3 linked regions of the Homo sapiens genome follow. The protein of the gene in region 1 interacts with the protein of each later gene in a pairwise test. Each region holds a gene or a part of one and is shown in the gene's direction. Other genes may lie near its edges.

Evidence for each region. The genes of interacting proteins can lie anywhere in the genome.
Region 2: the proteins of KPNA3 (region 1) and ATOSB interact in binary tests that used the Homo sapiens proteins (3 or more experiments, as listed by UniProt).
Region 3: the proteins of KPNA3 (region 1) and DDX21 interact in binary tests that used the Homo sapiens proteins (3 or more experiments, as listed by UniProt).

The regions. Positions count from the first base shown.
Region 1 is NC_000013.11:49,719,140-49,727,239, reverse strand, and holds part of KPNA3 (importin subunit alpha-4), read left to right. Parts: intron 1-1,738; coding exon 1,739-1,824; intron 1,825-4,676; coding exon 4,677-4,763; intron 4,764-5,115; coding exon 5,116-5,285; intron 5,286-7,420; coding exon 7,421-7,465; intron 7,466-8,100. UniProt on the Homo sapiens protein: Functions in nuclear protein import as an adapter protein for nuclear receptor KPNB1. Binds specifically and directly to substrates containing either a simple or bipartite NLS motif.
Region 2 is NC_000009.12:35,112,863-35,120,021, reverse strand, and holds the start of ATOSB (atos homolog protein B), read left to right. Parts: upstream 1-4,159; 5' UTR 4,160-4,217; exon of another isoform or gene 4,218-4,351; intron 4,352-7,159. UniProt on the Homo sapiens protein: Transcription regulator that may syncronize transcriptional and translational programs.
Region 3 is NC_000010.11:68,959,170-68,966,169, forward strand, and holds part of DDX21 (nucleolar RNA helicase 2), read left to right. Parts: intron 1-636; coding exon 637-1,080; intron 1,081-2,912; coding exon 2,913-2,988; intron 2,989-4,121; coding exon 4,122-4,300; intron 4,301-6,207; coding exon 6,208-6,325; intron 6,326-7,000.

The DNA.
Region 1 (8,100 bases):
CCGACCTCAGGTGATCCATCTGCCTTGGCCTCCCAAAGTGCTGGGGTTACAGGTGTGAACCACCTTGCCCGGACTTCTTTAACCTTTTGATACTAACAACCTTGCTTGCTCTCTTCCCTGTTTATAGGCTTTTCTTCAAACTCCCTAACCTTTGTCTAATCTTAATTTTTGCTGACTAAATCCCCCCAATCCTTGGTATTCCACTTAAGGGAATTTGTACTCTTTCAGCTATCCTAACTTAATATCTATCATTTCCTTTTAACAGGTCTTTCCTTTATGTCTTTTTTGTGACAGGGTTTCACTCTGTCACCCAGGCTGGAGTGCAGTGACACAATCACAGCTCATTGAATCCTCAAACTCCTAGGCTCAAGCAATCCCCCCATCCCACCCCCGCCCAGCATCCCAAGTAGCTGGGACTACAGGTGTGTACCACCACATCTGGCTGATTTTTTTATTTTTTGTAAAAATGGGGTCTCACCGTGTTGCCCAGGCTGGTTTCGAACTTTTTGGCTCAAGCGATCTGCCTGCCTCAGCCTCCCAAAGTGCTGGGACTACAGGTGTAAGCCCCAACATGTCTTTTAATAGGTCTCTCCTATATCAGCCTTTAACCTTTTTTAGCCATTCTGCATACCATTGATTTGAACATTATTTTCTTTCCTCCCTTTTTCAATGCCCCATCCTTAGCATATCTGTAGAATACACTCCTCACTCCCATCCTGAAACACACACACACATGCACAAACACCCTGTTACTTGCTTCTTAGTTAGTTTCAGCTCTCTTGATCTAATCCTTGTCGTTCCTACACATCATGATCCTTCCATGCATGATACCTGTTTTATTTCCCACTGTCACTGCCTTTCTTTTTAAATCCATCTTTGAAAAGCTAGTTCAGTTGTCACTTTCTTTGTGAGGTCTTCCATTACTATTCGAAAATATAATGATCTTGTTTTTTCAACAAAATTATACAGCCTTGTAATATCCCTAGTATGTAAAGCAGATGGTGTAATGGAGACAGATGGGGTTCTAGCTTTAAGACCAGCCTAGAGCGTGTGATAGTGGTTAAAGTGAGATGATGAGGGCCTCAACTAGCACTTGATATTAGGGGTGATTATATAAATGTAAGAAATGTTTAAGAGGTAAAATCGACATGATATATTGATTAGATGTGTCTGTGGAGAGGAAGTCGAAGTCAAGGGAAATAATGACTGGCTAAATGTTGTAATACCAGTGGACATAAAGAAGCAGGTTCATAGTGACTGGCTTTGGGAGCCAAAGAGATTTTTTAAGTAGAGATGGCTGCTGGGTGCAGTGGCTCATGCCTATAATCCCAGCACTTTGGGAAGCCGAGGTGGGCAGATCACCTGAAGTCAGGGGTTCAGGACCAGCCTGGCCAACATAGTGAAACCCTATCTCTACTAAAAGTACAAAAATGAGCCAGGTGTGGTGATGTGCACCTGTAATCCCAGCTACTTGGGAGGTGGAGACGAGAATCACTTGAACCCCAGAGGCAGAGATTGCAATGAGTCAAGATGGCGCCACTGCACTCCCGCCTGGGTGATGGAGGGAGACTCCATCTCAAAAAAAAAAAAAAAGTAGGGTTGGCTAGCAGGCAATTGGATTATAACAAGGTGAAATTCAAGGACAAGGCAAAGAATAGCCATATCTTATCAGTCTTAAGATTCATTAATTTAAGTGGTAGTTATGTGTCTAAAAAGATGTGTTATTGTTTTTTTACAGTCCTTCATTACAGTTTGAAGCTGCTTGGGCATTAACTAACATAGCATCAGGAACTTCTGCACAGACTCAAGCTGTTGTGCAGTCTAGTAAGTAAATTCCTTACTGTCTGAACTTTTTGTGTTTTAATGATGGCAAGGAAGTAGAGTTTTGTAATAAAGAAATTTTATCTTGTAACATTTTTTAAATGATGACTTTTATAAGTTACTTTTGATGACCGATATCTTTTTCATAGCCGTCATTAATTTATCATGAAAAATTTTTAATTGTGGTTATTAAAAGAAGAGTAGAGTTTTATCTTTTGGAGTAGACATCATGCTGTGATAACAGGATTTTAAATTCCGTTTCTGATATCTTCAAGATGCTGAATGGCTTCTGCCTTTTAGCTTATGACATATTTTAAATTTTACTTTCCTCAAGATGGGCTAATAATTATTGTTAAATGACACTGACACAAGCTCTTTAGAAAAGTACTAGATATCACCACGTACGTTATTATAGTATGGGACACTTAGCTAATTTTAGGTGTGGTAATCAAGGTGATTTTAAGTAGCATGTGATATGGCAGTAAGTTACATTGAATCATGTATTGAGAATACTATTCTCACCAGACCCACAGGTGGCTCATGCCTCTAATCCCAGCACTTTGGGAGGCTAAGGCAAGCAGATCACTTGAGTTCAGGAGTTCAAGAACAGCCTAGGTGACATGACAAAATCGTGTCTCTACAAAATATTTAAAAATTAGCATTGCATGGTGGCGCATGCCTATAGTCGCACCTACTCAGGAGACAGAGGCGAGAGGATCGCTTGAGCCAGGGAGGCAGAGGTTGCAGTGAGCCGAGACTGCACACTGCATTCCAGCCCCGGCGACAGAGTGAGACCCTATCTCAAAAACAAAGGCTGGGTGCAGTGGCTCAAGCCTGTAATCCCAGCACTTTGGGAGGCCGAGGCGGGTGGATCACGAGGTCAGGAGATCAAGACCATCCTTGCTAACATGGTGAAACCCTGTCTCTACTAAAAATACAAAAACAAAATTAGCCGGGCATGGTGGCGGGCGCCTGTAGTCCCAGCTGCTTGGGAGGCTGAGGCGGGAGAATGGCGTGAACCCGGGAGGCGGAGCTTGCAGTGAGCCGAGATCGTGCCGCTGCACTCCAGCCTGGGTGACAAAGCGAGACTCCACCTCAAAAAAAAAAAAAAAGTTATCATGTGACCCAGCAGTTCTACTCCTAGGTGAAACCAAGAGATATGAAAACATATTCATACAAACACTTGTACATAAATATTCACAGCAATGTTATTCATAACTAACCCAAATGTTCATTAACCGAGGAGTGGATAAAGTGAATGTGGTGTATACAATGGAATACAATTCAGCAGTAAAAAAGAATGAAGTACCAATACCTGTTACCACATGGATGAACCTGAAGAATGTTAAGTGAAGTCAGACCCCCCAAAAAACACAGTATGATTTCATTTGTATGAAATGTCCAGAATAGGCAAATCTGTAAAGACAGAAAGCAGATATTTAATGGTTGCCTGCCGCTTGGGGAATGTGTGGCAGAGGAACAAATGTGGAATGACTGCCTTAAGTATGAGATTTCTTTTTTCTTTTTTCTTTTCTTTTTTTTTTTTTTTTAAGACGGAGTCTCGCTCTGTCGCCAGGCTGGAGTGCAGTGGCGTGATCTCAGCTCACTGCAACTTCCGTCTCCTGGGTTCAAGCAATTCTCCTGCCTCACCCTCCCAAGTAGCTGGGACTACAGGCACACACCACCATGTCCAGCTAATTTTTGTATTTTTAGTAGAGACGGGGTTTCACTATGTTGGCCAGGATGGTCTCAACCTCTTGACCTCGTGATCTGCCCGCCTCGCTTCCCAAAGTGCTGAGATTATAGGTGTGAGCCACTGTGCCCGGCTGAGTATGATATTTTTTTTTTTTGAGACAGAGTCTTGCTCTGTCACCCAGGCTGGAGTGCAGTGGCACGATCTTGGCTCACTGCAACCTCCGTCTCCCTGGTTCAAGCAGTTCTCTGCCTCAGCCTCCAAAGTAGCTGGGATTACAGGCGCCCACCACCACGCCCGGCTAATTTTTATATTTTTAGTAGAGACAGGGTTTCACCATCTTGGCCAGGCTGGTCTTGAACTCCTGACCTGGTGATCCATCTGCCTCGGCCTCCCAGAGTGTTAGGATTACAGGCATGAGCCATCATACCCAGCCAAGATTTCTTTTGAGGTCCTGGAAATGTTATAAAATTAGATTGTGGCGATGTCCTCACAACTCTGTATAAATATGAAATGTCATTGAATTACACACTTAAATGTAAATTTATTGTAATTATATCTCCGTAAAGTTGTTAAAACTGAATTAATTTAAATTTTAAGTAAATAATACAAGTAATACACAGATACAGCAAAAAAAAAAAAATGAGGTAGTGCACAGTTGATTGAAATTTTTAAAAAGTGATCTAGCTTATGCTGGAAATGGGTATAATGTATACATTCTGTAAAGAGTAAGGATTATGAGAAATTATTTTAAAGTATAAGATAGACCTGATATGAGATTAATCAGTTCTTTGGTTAATCCCCGTATCAGGAATTGAGATTTTGTAGACTAAAGCATTACATTTTAAGGTTACATGTTTGGGGTAGGAACTCTTTTTTTTTTTTTTTTTTTTTTAATGGATTATAGGAAGGATTTCATGCTGTTGCTTTCTTTTAGTTAATGGTATGATAGCAACCTTTAGATACTGCCAGTTGGTTACGGTACTTGACTATTACTAGGGGAAAATACTGAAATTGATTCTTTTTAGGGTAAAGATATTTGCCACATTTGTTCTTCCAGCTACAATATGCCAGGCTGTGTATTTGATCAATTTCTTTGATCTGAAATCTGTAAACTCTTCAACATGTTGCTAGTATAAATATTAGTTTTTCTTTATTACAGATGCAGTACCTCTTTTTCTGAGACTTCTTCGTTCACCACATCAGAATGTTTGTGAACAAGCAGTATGGGCTTTGGGAAACATTATAGGTAAGTGGTTTGAAAGGAATCCTCTTAAGAATCTAAATTAACTTTTTTCCTACATTGGCATAGCCATTACATACTATGTTTCCTCTGAATTTAATGTGTGTTGACTCTCTTCTTGCCTCATAAGTACTGACTTAAGATGATGCTCTTTGAAAAGGATATACAGTTTGCTGTTAGCATTGGTAGGTTAAATTTACGTTCCCCAGATCAAAATCTGGAGAAACAACACTTGATGCCTTTGACTAATGGTGAGGAAACATAGAACGTCAGTGTTCCCACATGAGCCATTGCATACATTTCAGACTTTCTCATCCTGAATGTAAGTTTTTTTTAAATATAATTTTCATTTCTGTAGGTGATGGTCCTCAATGTAGAGATTATGTCATATCACTGGGAGTTGTCAAACCTCTTCTGTCCTTCATCAGTCCCTCCATCCCCATCACCTTCCTTCGGAACGTCACATGGGTCATTGTCAATCTCTGCAGGAATAAGGATCCCCCGCCGCCTATGGAGACAGTTCAGGAGGTAAATGAAGAATTGTAAAGGCCAGATGGTATATTTTCCCTATGTTTGTACTTCAGGAATTCATATACAGGGGACAAAATAATACATATACTGATTTCATTGCAGGTGTGAGTTTTTTGTTTGTTTGTTTGTTTGATAACGGAGTCTTGCTCTGTCGCCCAGGCTGGAGTGCAGTGGCGCGATCTTGGCTCACGGCAAGCTCCACTTCCTGGGTTCACGCCATTCTCCTGCCTCAGCCTCCTGAGTAGCTGGGACTACAGGCACCCGCCACCACGCCTGGCTAATTTTTTTGTATTTTTAGTACAGACGGGGTTTCACCATGTTAGCCAGGATGGTCTCGACCTCCTGACCTCGTGATCTGCCCGCCTCGGCCTCCCAAAGTGCTGGGATGACAGGCCTGAGCCACCACGCCCAGCCACAGGTGTAAGATTTTAAAAGTAACGTACCATATTTAATTACTCCTATGAAATAAAAGTTGAGTGTCTTACTGTACCTGAAAGAATGTCAGTTCATCCTAATGCCTATTTTTTTGATTATCTGCATAAAAAGAAAATATAAAAATTCAGAGAGAAAAATACAAAAGGAAAACAATCTCAAAGTTTTATTACTGTATTGCATTGTTGGTTTAAAGCTATAAAAGGGGGTTGCTACAGGCAAAACTAGTATACTTACATGCAAATGTTCTTGAATGAGTTTGCTTTAAGTCCAATTGATTTTTTTTCTTCTTCTTCTTCTTTTGAGACAGTCTTGTTCTATTGCCCAGGCTGGAGTGCAGTGGCATGATCTCAGCTCACTGCAGCCTCTGCCTCCTGGGTTCAAGCGAGTCTCGTGCCTCAGCCTCCTGAGTAGCTGGGATTACAGGCCAGCGCCACCACACCCGGCTAGTTTTTGTATTTTTAGTAGAGATGGGGTTTCACTGTGTAGGCCAGGCTGGTCTCAAACTCCTGACCTGAAGTGATCTGCTCACCTCAGTATCCCAAAGTGCTGGGATTACAGGTGTGAGCCACTGCCCCCACGGCCTAACTCCAATTTATTACTGACAAAATTGGAGTTCTTAAAAGTGTGACATATTTTTTGTTAAATCTACTAATTAAAACAAAGTAAAAACTTTTTTATTTACATTTGATATGTAAATAGATCCTTGTGCTTTGCATTTTAAAAAAAAATCCTACATAACCTTTATTCACTGTTGACTGTGTTATCTCTTTTTTTTTTTTTTTTTTTTGAGACAGTCTCGCTCTGTTTCCCAGGCTGGAGTGCAGTGGCACAATCTTTGCCCACTGCAGCCTCCACATCCGGGGTTCAAGCGATTCTCATGTCTCAGGCATGTGCCACCATGCCAGGCTAATTTTTGTATTTTTAGTAGAAATGGGTTTTCACCATGTTGGCCAGCTGGTCTTGAACTCCTGGCATCAAGCAGTCCACCCACCTCACCCTCCCAAAGTGGTGGGATTACAAGCATGAGCCACCACACTTGGCCAACTGTGTATCTTTATAATGGACATCTTTCTCTAGTACCTGCTACTTTTTGTTGCTATGCAAAGGTATTTTGTGTGATTTCCTACAACCCCCTGCTCCCTTTCTCCCATATTTTAAAAAGAGATCTCTGGGGCCTGAATTTAACAAGCAAAGCTTTGTACTTTGTACTGGTTCGAATTTTCTTGACTAAAGGTGAAGTTGAAAACTTTAATTTGACTTAAGTAGCTTATTAAGTAAAATCGTATTTTTACGTTAAGCAGGTAAGTGAGACAATTACGGCAGTTTTAAGTGTAGCTTTTCTTAAATAGCTGTAACTGTATATTTGCATCTCCATTTTTTCCACTTGACATTTTATGCCATAAAGAAGGTTATTAAAAACAAATGTTTTTATTTTAAGGTACATTAACTTCTGCCAGATTTATTTGGATATTTTAACTTGTTAATTGAACATATTTCAGTTTAACATTTGAGATATGTTTTTGGTTTTTTTAGATTGAATTTATCAGGTTTTCATTTTCCTAAAAGATATTCAGACAAATTTAACATTGTCTTTCTCGCCCTACAAACCATATTTACCGCTTTTTATGTCAAAGTTGTTCATTTTTACAGACATATTAATTAACTAATGTTAAGTATTGTTTATTTTCTTTCCTCAGATTTTGCCAGCTTTATGTGTCCTCATATACCATACAGATATAAACGTAAGTTAAGAAGCAGCTTAAATGTGGGATTTTGCTCTTGATGGGACAGAAAGGGTTTTTATGTAAGTGTCAGCATACATTTTATCAACTTGTCAAGTTTCTACAACGTATTTACAGTTTTCAGAAATAGGATTAAGCTTAAATTAGGTTTATAGCTTAAATCTGTAAGCAGTAACAGCCAGACAGCAAAAATGCTCACTTTTGAGAAATTACTGCATATGTAGTTTATTTCTGTCATTATTAAGTAGTGTTTTTAAACCTTAATATTTGTAAAGCGGTAAAACCTCATGAAACACCTTACTTTTTAAAAAAAATCTCACTGGTTCTTACAACAGATAGGCTAGATATTATTCCCCCCATTTTATAGAATAAGAAGAAACGGACTCTCAGAGAGAGATTAAATGACTTATCTAAAGTGGAAGAGCTAGTAAGGGTCAGAGTCAATATTCAAATTAAAGTCTTCTCATAACAGGTCTTGGGTACTTGTCACAAAACCATGCTGCCTTTTTATGCTACAGTCTTTTTAGATATAGTATAGAAGAATATATAGTTTTAAATGCAAGGCATTTTTAGGTGATTTTTTTTCATTATATTCAGATTTAGTGAAGCATTTACTGTCAACGTTCTGGCAAGTT
Region 2 (7,159 bases), on another chromosome or scaffold:
TTTCTGCCTCCCAGGCTCAACCAATTCTCGCACCTCAGCCTCCCGAGTAACTGGGACTACAGGGATGTGCCACAACACCCAGCTAATTTTTGTCTTTTTAGTAGAGATGGGGTTTCACCATGTTGGCCAGGCTGGTCTCGAACTCATGACCACAAGTGATCCACCTGCTTCAGCCTCCCAAAGTGTTGGGATTACAGGTGTGAGGCACCACACCTGGCCAGAATATGGGTATTTGTTATAATATTCTTTAGAGCTTCCTGTATGCCTCAAGTATTTCATAAAGAAGTTCTAAAAATCTTGTAGAAAAATAAAGACTCAGACTGCTTAGCTACCACTGTTGTTTTTTTTTTTTTTTAAAGACTGCAATATGATGCCAGGTGCTCTGGCTCACACTTGTAATCCCAGCACTTTGGGAAGCTGAGGCAGGAGGATAACTTGAGGCCAGGAGTTGTAGACCAGTATGGGCAACCTAGCAAGCCCTATCTCTACAATAGAAGATTAAAGGCCAGGCGCTGGTGGCTCACGCCTATAATCCCAGCACTTTGGGAGGCCAAGGTAGGCGGATCACTTGAGGACAGGAGTTTGAGACCAGTCTGGCCAATATGATAAAACCCTGTCTCTACTAAATATACAAAAATTAATTAGCCAGGTGTGATGGCTTATGCCTGTAATCCCACTACTCAGGAGGCTGAGGCAGGAGAATCACTTGAACCTGGGAGGCAGAGGTTGCAATGAGCTGAGATCACACCGTTGTACTCCAGCCTCAGTGACAGAGCGAGACTCCATCTCAAATAAAATAAAATATAATAAAAAATTAAAAAAAATAAAAAATTAAAATTTTTTTTTCTTTTTTGGTAGCATGTGTTTGTAGTCCTAGCTACTCTGGAGGCTGAGGCAGGAGTATCCCTCGAGCCCAGGAGCTCAAAGTTACAAGGGCTATGATTGCACCACTGTACTTCAGCCTGGGTGACAGAATGAGACCCTGTCTCTTAAAAAACAAAACTAGTCCAGGAGCGGTGGCTCACGCCTGTAATCCCAGCACTTTGGAAGGCCAAGGCGGGTGGATCACCTGAGGTCGGGAGTTCGAGATCAGCCATGACCAACATGGAGAAACCCTCATCTCTACAAAAAATACAAAATTAGCCAGGCGTGGTGGCACATGCCTGTAATCCCAGGTACTCAGAAGGCTGAGGCAGGAGAATCGCTTGAACCCAGGAGGCGGAGGTTGCAGTGAGCCAAGATTGCGCCATTGCACTCCAGCCTGGGCAACAAGAGCAAAACTCTGTCTCAAAATAAAACAACAACAACCAAAAAAAAAAAAAAAAAACGGCCGGGCACAGTGGCTCATGCCTGTAATCCCAACAGTTTGAGAGGCTGAGGCGGGTGGGTCACAACGTCAGGAGATCAAGACCATCCGGGGCAATATGGTGAAACCTTGTCTCTACTACAAATACAAAAATTAGCCCGGCGTGGTGGCATGCACCTGTAGTCCCATCTACTCAGGAGGCTGAGGTGGGAGAATCGCTTGAACCCAGGAGGCAGAGATTGCAGTGAGCCAAGATCGTGCCACTGCACTCCAGCCTGGGCGAAAGAGCAAGACTCTGTCTCAAAACAAAACAAAAACTGTTAAGGTCATCAAAAACAAGGAAGTTTGAAAAACTGTCACAGCCAAGAGGAGCCAAAGGAGACATGATGTCTAAATGTAATGTTCCAGCTTGGGTTAGATTTTGGCACAGAAAAAGGACATAAGGCAAAAACTAAGAAAATCAGAATAGGCCGGGCGCGGTGGCTCACACCTGTAATTCCAACACTTTGAGAGGCCGAGGCGGGTGGATCACCTGAGGTCGGGAGTTCGAGACCAGCCTGACCAACATGGAGAAACCCTATCTCTACTAAAAATACAAAATTAGCCAGGCGTGGTGGCACATGCCTGTAATCCCAGCTACTCGGGAGGCTGAGGCAGGAGAATCTCTTGAAACCAGAAGGTGGAGGTTACAGTGAGCCGAGATCTTGCCACTGCACTCCAGCCTGGGTGAAAGAGCGACAACTCCGTCTCAAAAAAACAAAAAGAAAATCAGAATAAAGTGTGGGTTTTAGTTATTGTTAATGTATCAATATTGGCTTATTAATTGTAATAAATGAACCATATAAGGAAAGATGTTAATAATAGGAGAAACTAGGTGTAGGGTATATATGAAAACTCTCTGCACTATTTTTACAAGTTTTCTGTAAATCTAAAATTGTTCTAAAATTAATTTTTTAAAGTCAAATAATTTACCTAAATCTATACAGCTAGTAAATACTCAAAGGTATGAGACAAACTCATAAGTTGAACCCATAAGTTGAAGTTTGAAGTTGAAGTTGAAGAAGTTTAGATGACTTCAAACTCTGTGGTTTTCCCACTACCCAAAACCTTTCTTAGTTTACCCTTCTGGGATTATGTAGGCATTTGTATCACTGTCTAAATAATAAGTTCCTTATGGCCAGAGAAAATACTTTTTTCTTTCTTTTTTTTGCGCTTCCACACCACTGACGTTGAGTAAACCAGTTTAAGTTAACTACTGACAAAGTCACAGAGCCTAAAGAATCTGAGATTTGGCCGGGTGCTGTGGCTCACGCCAGTAATCCCAACACTTTGGGCAGCCGAGGCGGGCGGATCGCTTGAGGTCAGGAATTTGAGACCAGCCTGGCCAACATGGTGAAACCTGTCTCTACCAAAAATACGAAAATTAGCCCGGCCTGGTGGCGCGCGCTTGTAATCCCAGCTACTCTGAAGGCTGAGGCAGGAGAATTGCTTGAACCCAGTAGGCGGAGGTTGCAGTGAGCCGAGATCGCACCACTGCACTCCAGTTTGGGCGAAAGAGCGAGACGCCGTCTCAAAAAAAAATAAAAAAGAATGTGACTTTTGTAGAACTTGATCAAATCCAGACCCAAACGGTCCGCTCCTCGGAGAGGCCACAGATCGGCGCTGAGCTGGGCTGTCTCAGTTCTGCAAGTGTCCTGTGCTGCCATCTACCGGTGTCTGGGAAGCGTCGCCCTCCCTTATTGTATCTCCTGGGGAGAGGTTGGAGAGGGCGCCGCTTAAACTGCAGAACATATGTAACTGTCATGCAGTTCATTAGACACCTGTACAAGGGAAAGGCCTCACTTTTCTCCAGCAATTGCAGGCCCTCCTAACTCCATATCAACACTCATCTCGTAAAATTCACAGATCTCGCTGACCTGCCTCAGTAGGTACTGATCTGACTCCTACTGTCCATCCCATCCCAGAACCCACACCCGCCTGCACAGCGTAGGCTTCAGAAACTGCTCAACCTCGCAGACCTGAACCCCACCGCCCAGATTCCCTCATTTTCACAGACCCCTGAGATTCCTTGCACTACCTTGCAATCCCTACGGACCTCCCCTATTAGTGCAAATGCACGCGCCCACCCAGACATCCCTACAAAGAGGTTAGAGTTCCGGCGGCAGCTCACACCGGTGCGAAAGCAGCGAGATAGCCCCAACCCGGCTCAGAGCCCTCAGGCTGGTGGCTTTGGCCCTGGCTCCATCTCCCCACCTCTGCCCTGATCCGCTCCGCTCAGGCTAGCAGCCTGCCGGCCGAGGCCCCGCCCCTCTAGACTTGTCATCACAGAAGCCGCACGTGGCCGGGGTGGGACCTCAGGCGACCTGCGACCATCACTTTGTCTCCTCCTTCCTCCTTTGGGGCCGCCACCGCCAATCAGAGCCAGCGGATCCTGGTTGGAGTGCGACCGCCCGGGTGAGGCGTGAGGGAGAAGGGGCGGAAGGAGGAGGGGCTCTGAGATGGGAGGGGGATCGTGGTGGAAGGGTCTTGGCGCGACTTCTGCCAGGCTGGAATCCGAGGGGGCGGGTCCTGGTGAAAGGCGGAGAGACCGAGAGGAGGCGGGGATCGGGGGTGGGGCCTGGGAAAAGCTGAGGATCCTGGGGAAATGCAAAGAAAACGCGAAGGAGGTGCGAGGTCAGAAGGGGGCGGGGCCCGGGCTACAGGGGAGGAGCTCGAGAAATTAAACGAGGAAAGGGACAAGTCCACAGAAGGTGGAAGGTGGGACAAGGGAGAGGGTGGGCCCGGGCGTTGCGGGGGCGGGGCTCAGACTGAAGGGGCGAGGTTTGCAGGCGGAGGCTACAGCTAGGGCTGCTCAGTAACTGCCCCAACCACTACCACGTCCCCAAGTGCAACGGGACCCACGGAACTACAGGTGTGGGGCAGGGTGAGCGTGGAAGAAGGGACGCGGATGGGGGTGCGCTTTGCAGACGATCTGGAGACTGCTGTGTGTTGAGGGAAGATACGAAGTCGCGGGAGCAGTTGGGGACTCAATGTGTGGGCAACAAGGTGCATTCTCCAGAGGCCTCTATGGGGGAAGGGCGGGAGCGCTTTGTTGTGGGGGGGTTGCGAGGTACATTGTGAGGGGGCTGTCTCTGTCTGATGTGGGGGGTTGGAGGAGGTACATGAGGGGCAGGGGACATGGAGGTGCTTTGAAGGAAGGGGGGCTGTTTAATGGAGAAGGAGTGTAGCGGTGTCGGAGGGTCTGCGGGCACTATCTAGGGGAAGGGGTTGTAGGCCCAACTTGAGGCAGGAGAACAGAACCCCCAGTACTTTGACAAAGTAACAGTTTAGGGCATTGTAGTAACTACAGGAAGACACTTGTGTTCTGGGTTCTAAGAGCAAGGGTGTTGGGGTTAGTGGGGTGAAGAGGCCAATCTATTGCACTCCTGTCTGCTCAGCTTTTAACTCCGCCTTCTGGCCTGGGCACTCAGAGAGGAGTCAGACCCTGCTTGTCACTAGGGCTTGTGTGAATGTCTCCTCAGTCTATTTTGGATCTGTCCAGCTGAGACTGGGGTTTCTTCCCTAAGCTGAGGTCCCGGGGGACCCTTCCCCCGCTGGGTTCCTGTCAACCCCCCATCCTAGTTCCTGTTCCTCCCAGAGCCGGCCTTGGTCTCTGTCTCCCCCCTCCCCCGCCCTGCCCTTATGCTCTGGGTGTGCTCATTTCCCACTTCCTTCCTTGCCCCAGGGCCTGGCCTGGCCCTTGCCCATCTAGGAGCTGTGCCCTGCCCGGTACTTTGTTATCAATGACCAGAGACCCTGGTAACCAGCGGCAGGGCTCAGACCCCACCCCCACCACTACCACCCAGGTCTCTCGCATAGATCCCCAAGTGACTGGTAGCCACATTTAACCACTTGCCACAAACAGATTTTCCCCACCCTTATCCTTCTGGGTAGGGAACGCTAGGGCTTCTGTGGGAGGGGGGAAGTGGTGAGGAGTATTGAGGGTCTTCTGTCTGTTTTGAGAGGTGGGCCACGACTGTAAGCTGAACCCAGTAAGGGTTGTGAGGTTCCAGCCACAGCTAGGGGAGGAAGAGGGAGTGGCTCCCCACACTCCAGGCTTGGAAGCACTATCAGAACAGGCTAGGACCTAGTTCTCTTGAGGGCTCCTCTGCTTCCCTGAGGGGATTTGATGGAGTGCTAGAGTTCTTTTTGCCCCTGGGCTGGCTGGGAGAGGGTGGGAAAGGCTTGAGTTCCACACAGTGGCTAAATGAGTGTGACAGTGTTGCTAAAAGGGGCCCCAAGCCAGCCTCCTCACACAACCACCCAGGAGCTGAGAGACTGGCTGGGGAGGGGGGTGGGTCTGCTGAGGACAGACAAAGCCCTGGGGTAGGGTGGGGTAAAAAAGGGCAGGCTGAAGCCTTTTGAGGAGGAGCTGATTGCTATGGCAACACTGCTTCCCAGACAGTCTCTCAGAGAGGGCGGGCCTAGGGCAGACTCTCCAGCTTCCTCAGGACTGGGGCGGTTTGTGTGAGTGGGTGGGGCATGAAGAGAAAGGGCATCAGTTTGCTGTGCTGAGACTGGAGGATATAGCCTTTCTGCTTTGGTACAGGCAGCAGAGCATTCGAATGCCTGGAGCTATCCTCTGATATGGAGATGAGTGAACAACAGTCATTAGAATTGTAGAGCTGCAGAGGCCCTCAGCAGTCATTGTTTATACAAACACCTCATTTTACAGGTTTGGAAATTTATGGCTAAAGAGACTGTGATTCCCCAGATGTCACAGTGAAAGGGCAGAAGATAGGATCCAGATCGCCGGATTGCTGTTCACTCAGCCCAGGGCCTGTTGTTTTCTTCAGTCAATGTTTATTGAACATTGCCAGGGACTAATGTTGGCTCTGGGAATATGAGCATGAACGAAACAAAGTTGCTGCTCTCATGGAGCTTCCATTCTATTAAGGGGAGAAAGAAATTGTGGAGGGGGAGGGAGAAGTCAAGTAGTGATAACCGCTATATAAAAAAAAATAAAGCAGGATAAATTTAGGGCAGGAAGGTAAGGCCTCTTTATTTATTTATTTATTTATTTATTTATTTATTTATTTATTTATTTTTGAGACGGAGTCTCACTCACTCTGTCACCCAGGCTGGAGTGCAGTGGTGCGATCTTGGCTCACTACAACCTCCGCCTCCTGGGTTCAAGTGATTCTCCTGCCTCAGCCTCCTGAGTAGCTGGGATTACAGGTGCGCGCCACCACACTCAGCTAATTTTTGTATTTTTAGTAGAGACGGGGTTTCACCATGTTAGTCAGGCTGGTCTCGAACTCCTGAGCTTGTGATCCGCCCACTTTGGCCTCCCAAAGTGCTGGGATTACAGGCGTGAGCCACCGTACCTGGTGGTAAGTCCTCTTGGTTGTACCCTGCTGCTTTCCCAGGGTACACTGAGGCCTGGAACATCTTTGATCCTTCACCCTGAACTATTGTCCTCTGACCTTTGTAGGTAACCAAGGCCTGGCCTATGGTAGTGGCAGAAAGATAGAATAAGGTGGGGTTGCTAAGGGATTATTTTTTTCCTACAGTGTTCTACGTCTCTGTTTTCCTAGTAAGTTTTTATTAAGGCAAGTAGGCTCTTACATTGATACACTGTAATTTTGACAAGGGCATTGAAAATTTCCTTAACCCTGTTCCTTACACTAGGGAACCGGCAAGGAAGTCAGCCCAAGGGAACTGGGTTCTTATTCAGAGTTTTCCTCTTGAAAAGGGTGGTCTAGGGTGAGGTAAGGAGAAGGGAGCTTAGAGGGACTGTTACTTGCTTGTGTCTCCCAAGTCTAGGACTGAGGGACTAGGGGGAAGAGGAAGGAGCCTCTTTTTACTATCTAG
Region 3 (7,000 bases), on another chromosome or scaffold:
GTATCCCATGAGCTTATCCAAATCCCTTATGAAAATCTGGTTTATAGGCCAAGCACGGTGGCTCATGTAATCCTAGCAGTTTGGGAGGCCGGAGTGGGTGGGTTGCCTGAGCTCAGGAGTTTGAGACCAGCCTGGGCAACATGGGAAAACCCCACCTCTACTAAAAATACAAAAATTCGCTGGGTGTGGTGGTGGGCGCCTGTAGTCCCAGGTACTCGGGAGGCTGAGGCATGAGAATAACTTGAACTCAGGAGTGGAGGTTTCAGTGAGCTGAGATTGTGCCACTTCACTACAGCCTGGGCGACAGAGCGAGACTCTGTCTCAAAAAAGAAAATCTGTTTTACAACTGTTTGACCCACATGAGTTGAATAGTTACTAAGGGGCACTCTTCATTTTCCAAGATAGTGAAACTATTGATATATACCCGTCTATATATATAGCTAAGAAGCGATTTTAGAAAAAGCTTACTATTTTGATTTTTACCTTATCACAGCATGAAAGTACAAATGTCGAAATGCCCCAAAATTGTATTTTTTAAAGTTGAAAATGATCTTGAAATAATCCAGAATTGATGAATGTTGCAAATGTATAAATGCCTTATTCAGTGTTTGTATTTTCCTTATGAATTTTTTTTAGAAAGAGAAAAAAGAGAAGCCAAAATCTGATAAGACTGAAGAGATAGCAGAAGAGGAAGAAACTGTTTTCCCCAAAGCTAAACAAGTTAAAAAGAAAGCAGAGCCTTCTGAAGTTGACATGAATTCTCCTAAATCCAAAAAGGCAAAAAAGAAAGAGGAGCCATCTCAAAATGACATTTCTCCTAAAACCAAAAGTTTGAGAAAGAAAAAGGAGCCCATTGAAAAGAAAGTGGTTTCTTCTAAAACCAAAAAAGTGACAAAAAATGAGGAGCCTTCTGAGGAAGAAATAGATGCTCCTAAGCCCAAGAAGATGAAGAAAGAAAAGGAAATGAATGGAGAAACTAGAGAGAAAAGCCCCAAACTGAAGAATGGATTTCCTCATCCTGAACCGGACTGTAACCCCAGTGAAGCTGCCAGTGAAGAAAGTAACAGTGAGATAGAGCAGGTACATTTGCACTTCATTGGGTAGAAGATATCTTTCATTGTTGTTTCAGATAAATAAGTAGGTAACTGCTATATGTACTCTTTAATAGTAGGAGAAAATGTGATGTGTCAGCACCTTGTGGGTTGGGGGATACCTTAGGCTGACTGGGACTTCATCTTAAAAATTAGCATACGACAGGGCATGGTGGCTCAGCTAAGAGTACTCTGTCTTTTTTATTTTTTTATTTTTTTGAGACAGAGTCTCGCTCTGTCACCTAGGCTGGAGTACAGTGGCACGATCTCAGCTCACTGCAACCTCTGCCTCCTGGGTTCAAGTGATTCTCCTACCTTAGCCTCCTCAGTAGGTGGGATTACGGGTGTGTGCTATCACGCCTGGCTAATTTTTTGTATTTTTAGTAGAGGCGGGCTTTCACCATGTTGGCCAGGCTGGTCTCGAACTCCCAACCCCAGGTGATCTGCCCGCCTGGGCCTCCCAAAGTGTTGGGATTACAGGCATGAGCTACTGTTCCCAGCGGACTCTGTCTTTAAAAAAAAAAAAAAAAAAATTAGCATAGTGTCACAATGCCTCCTTTACAAATAAGCAGATACTGCTTAAGCTTAGGGAGAGTCTTGGTCTGCTTATTTGCAAGTCAGTCAACAGAAGAGATACAGTTTTGTAAATGGGCCCTAGTTTCCCTCTGAGGGGTTTAACCAAATAAATTATTGGAATTACTGAAAAGGTTGATTGCATAAGTCCTTTTGGTTAGGCCATTAAGTAATCATCCTGGAGTTGAACAGGATGATAAAATGTCTGTCCAGAACCTAATTCTGTTATCTTTCAGAAACTCAGTTATGAAAGAAATACGAATTGTATTAAAAAAATTTGTTTTAGACATGGGATCTCGCTGTGTGGCCCAGGCTGGTCTAGAACTTGTGGCTTCAAGCGATAATCCCGCCTAAGCCTCCCGAGTAGCTGGGATTACAGGCACAAGCCACCACACCCAGCTGAAAAATACTAATTCTAATAGATTTTCTTTTTGCTATAGATCATGGTCAACATTTGTAACTTTTTTCCTGATTATAAAAAATATGTGATCCAGAGAAAATAGAAAATGCAGACATTTTGCAAAAAGAAAGAAATGCTTCCTGGAATTTCACCATTCATTTAGTAAATATTAATACCTGTACTTTTCAAGTACAGAAGTCATCTTGTTAATTTTTGGTGTTTCCTTGTAGTACTTTTAGTATATGCATCTATTATTTTTAATCAGATTAGGATTGTACTGTGCAATCTTGTATCTTTTTTGTTTCTAGCTAAGCATTTTCCTCGTTAAGTACGCTTAATGGTTACATAATCCTTCATATAAATGTCTTGAAATCTACTTACTACTTGTATTGAGCATTCAGATATCTTACTATCAAATAATGCCACAGTGACTGCTACCTCATAAAATGTTTGTTCATTTTCTATGGATGTGTGTATACAAGAGATGCTGCTTTGGAAGAGGGCTAATGACATTTCCATCAGTATATTGTTGATTATGGTTATGGAGTAGATCTTAGTTGAGATCTAGTCACACATAATCTTAGTTGAGATCTTAGTTGAGATCTAGTTACCCAGTATATATTTGCCTCAGATTTTTCTTTTGTTAAAGTTTTATAGATTTATGACAATGTTTCCTTTTCAGATCTCGAGTTACCTATCAAGGTTTTTGTATCTTTTTGGTTGATTTTTAAAGTGATGTGTTTAGAAGAATTGCTTTAGGATAGCTTGTTTTGTCTCTTTCTCAGAAGGTTCTCTATTAATTTGTGTAGGTGATTATTGATTTCTTTCTATGGCCCTTTACTTGATAGGAAATACCTGTGGAACAAAAAGAAGGCGCTTTCTCTAATTTTCCCATATCTGAAGAAACTATTAAACTTCTCAAAGGTAATGTTCTTGGAAATATCGTATGATGTTAGAACGTATTATTTTAACAGAAGCACTCCACTATTTTTGTTAAGATGAACCAGGATGTATTCTTATTGTAGGCTGATATATGCAGTCATATAATGAAGTAGGCCTGTGTATTCAATTTAGTACTATAGTAGTGATGGTTCTTCATGCTTCTTAAACAAGTGGTTAAAGCTTTTTCAGGCCCTCTGTGGTGGCTCACACCTGTAATTGATTGAGGCCAGGAGTTTGAGATCTTCCTGGGTAACATAGTGAGAACCTGTCCCGACAAAAAGTTTAAAAATTAGCTGGGCACGTGGTAACACACATCTATAGTCCTAACTACTCCAGAGGCTGAGGAAGGAAGATCGCTTGAGCCCAGGAGTTCAAGGCTTCAGTGAACTGTGGTCACACCACTGCACGCCAGCCTGGGTGACAGAATGAAACCCTGTCTCAAAAAAAATTGTATTTAATACAGTGTGTATTCAGAAGTGTATTGACTAATGGTGCTGGTGAAATTAAGCAATTAGGTGATGCCATATTAATGTTTTATCTCTTTCACTTCTGAGGCATCTCTAGATTAATGAGCCTAATTTATAGGCATAAACCCAGAATTCATTTAATAATCTGCTTCTGAAGTAGCTGGAGTCACAGTTACTCAAGTAGGTGCTTCCTAAATCAGGAGCAGCACAGTTGGATTGCAAAGCACCAGATTTTCAGGCTTATGGATGAGACTTCAAATATTTACTATAATTGGATGCTTTAAAGTTTGTTGATATTTTTCAGTCAAGCAGATTCTTTACTATCAGAATATTTCTGAGCCAGGTATGATGGCTTGCACCTGTAATCCCAGCTGTCCATCAGGCTGAGGCAGGAGGATCACTTGAGCCCAGGAGTTCAAGGCTGCAAGTGAGTTATGATCACACCACTGTACTCCAGCATGGGCGACAAAGCAAGACCTTGTCTCTTAAAAAATATACGTATTTGAGCCTAACTTTGTAGATGTTGACCAGAAGGTAGAATTCCTTAATTCTGCAGGACCAGAAGCATGAGTAGTATACTTCAGTATGTCAGTATGGCTAATGTTTTAAGAATTGCAGTGTGAGATAACACAGTTAATTTGTTCATAGGCCGAGGAGTGACCTTCCTATTTCCTATACAAGCAAAGACATTCCATCATGTTTACAGCGGGAAGGACTTAATTGCACAGGCACGGACAGGAACTGGGAAGACATTCTCCTTTGCCATCCCTTTGATTGAGAAACTTCATGGGGAACTGCAAGACAGGAAGAGAGGCCGTGCCCCTCAGGTAACTGTCTTAAATACAAGGGCTCTCAGTCAGCATAGGAAAAACCACCACTTGGGCATTGTGTACATACCCTACTATTTTTTATTGAGTTCTTATAGTCACCCATTCTATTTACTGTGGATCTTTATGTGAAAGTAATCCAGGACAATTCTTTTATATTTAATAATTAATATATACAGATCATTCTCTGTATATTTCAATATTTTAATCTTTCCCACAGTTTTGATCATCTATATAATTAATGCTATCATATTTCCTTCAAACCATTAGATGTCCCTGGGGCTCATAGCTTTCGTCAAGTGTCTGACCATTTTTGCCTAGATGGAGAAAGCATTTTTGGTAGAAAAGCATGAATGGGCGGTGGCTCACACCTGTAATCCCAGCACTTTGGGAGCCCGAGGTGGGCGGATCACGAGGTCAGGAGATCGAGACCATCCTGGCTAACAACATGAAAGCCCATCTCTAATAAAAATACAAAAAATTAGCCGGGCGTGGTGGCGGGCGCGTGTAGTCCCAACTACTTGGGAGGCTGAGGCAGGAGAATGGCGTGAATCCAGGAGGCGGAGCTTGCAGTGAGCCGAGATGCACCACTGCACTCCAGCCTGGGCGATAGAGCAAGACTCCGTCTCAAGAAAAAAAAAAAAAAAAAAAGAAAAGCATGAATGGAAAGAAGGGCAAGTCAGAGGTGAAAACGCCAAGCCCCCATATTAGGGTGAGTCCATTGGGTTCATTTCTAGAGAACTTGACATTTAACAAACATTAACCTCATTGAAATGACTGCGAATGCCCATGTAGTCACTTTGGCTGTGGGTTCTTGCAGTTGTCTTTCTGGCCTAACCTCACTTGCTCACTGGCCTTCCAGTGTCCATGCTCCCCCTTTGTTAATTTGTTTACTGCTATATCCCTAGCACATTTTAGATGAATGTATTAGGTGTTCTTGAATCATATTAGTTTCATACCATTACCCTATTTTTGAGGACCTGTAGCAGTTCAAGCAATTCTCCTGCCTTAGCCTCCCAAGTAGCTGGGATTACAGGCGTGTACCACCATGCCTGGCTAATTTTGTATTTTTAGTAGAGATGGGGTTTCACCATGTTGGCCAGGCTGGTCTGGAACTCCTGACGTCAAGTGATCCACCCACCTCAGCCTCCCAAAGTGCTGGAATTATAGGCTTGAGCCACTGCACCTGGACTTTTTTTTTTTTTTTTTTTTGAGACAAAGTCTCGCTTTGTCGCCCAGGTTGGAGTGCGGTGGTGCAATCTTAACCTCTGCCTCGCAGGTTTAAGTGATCCTCCCGCCTCAACATCCCAAGTAGTTGGGATTACAAGTGTGAGCCACCACGCCTGGCTCATTTGTATTTTTAGTAGAGATAGACTTTCACCATGTTGGCCAGGCTGGTCTTGAACTCCTGACCACCCACCTTGGCCTCCCAAAGTGCTAGGATTATAGGCATGAGCCATTGCGCCTGGCCAGCAGTTTCATGTTTTATATATATATAGATCAAATTCATATTGCTCTAGGATTCAAAGCCCCTTACATTGTTGGCTCTACCTTACTTCTCTGATTTTGTTCTGCTTCAAATTTTCTCTACTGTAGAGGTTAAGACTATAGGTTTTGGATCCCAATTGCTTGAAGGCTCTGCTCCTTCTTAGCCTTTGGGGTTTAGTCAAGTTATTTATCCTCTAATACCTAGCTCAAAAGGTTGCAAGAATTGAATCAGAATAATATATATAAAGAATTTAGTAGAGTCTCAGATCTATTAGACAAAAATATTAGATAATGTTATCGTCATCATCAGCGTTAGACCTTGTTCAAGTCGTTCTTTTCCTGGAATGCTGTTCTTTAAGGACTAGATTAAGAAACAAATACTACACAGTAATTTGAATTCAATTATTTTTCTTTATCAGGTACTGGTTCTTGCACCTACAAGAGAGTTGGCAAATCAAGTAAGCAAAGACTTCAGTGACATCACAAAAAAGCTGTCAGTGGCTTGTTTTTATGGTGGAACTCCCTATGGAGGTCAATGTGAGTACATTCAAAAAGTGAGGGAGGTATAATGCCACCCATTGTTGACTGCTCTGATTGGATTTCTTTTCACCTTGACATCTGGCTTCTCTATATAGGATAGTCGTTTATGGGGATTTTCTTTTGCCATTGTTTAAACATGGTCAAGAACATGGTCCTGCTTGATGATAGGCAAATCCTGTATATCGTTCTTAGGACTTTTATCTATTTATATTTATCTAGGGGCTACAAAAGTAATTTATTATTGAACCCAAAAAGACAGTCCATTTGGGCTCTAGGAAATAGGAAGTCAGAATTCAAGGTTCCTCTTGTCTGTCAGGACCTTGGGTCTGTCCCTCTTTCTGCATGGTTGCTTCTTTCTTGATGTAGGCAGGCTTTCTTTCCTTGGGGCTCAAGGGCCAAATGTTAGTCTCTACTCTTATATTCCATTACTTCCCAGTTCAAGGCCTTGGAGCTTTATTATTAGAGCAGATGTATAAATTAGGAAGGGATTTAAGGAATTTAAAAAAATCATAGTTTTGGCCAGGCGCAGTGGCTCACGCCTGTAATCCCAGCACTTTGGGAGGCTGAGGCGGGCAGATCACAAGGGCAGGAGATCGAGACCATCCTGGCTAACACGGTAAAACCCCGTCTCTACTAAAAATACAAAAAATTAGCCGGGCGTGGTGGCAGGCA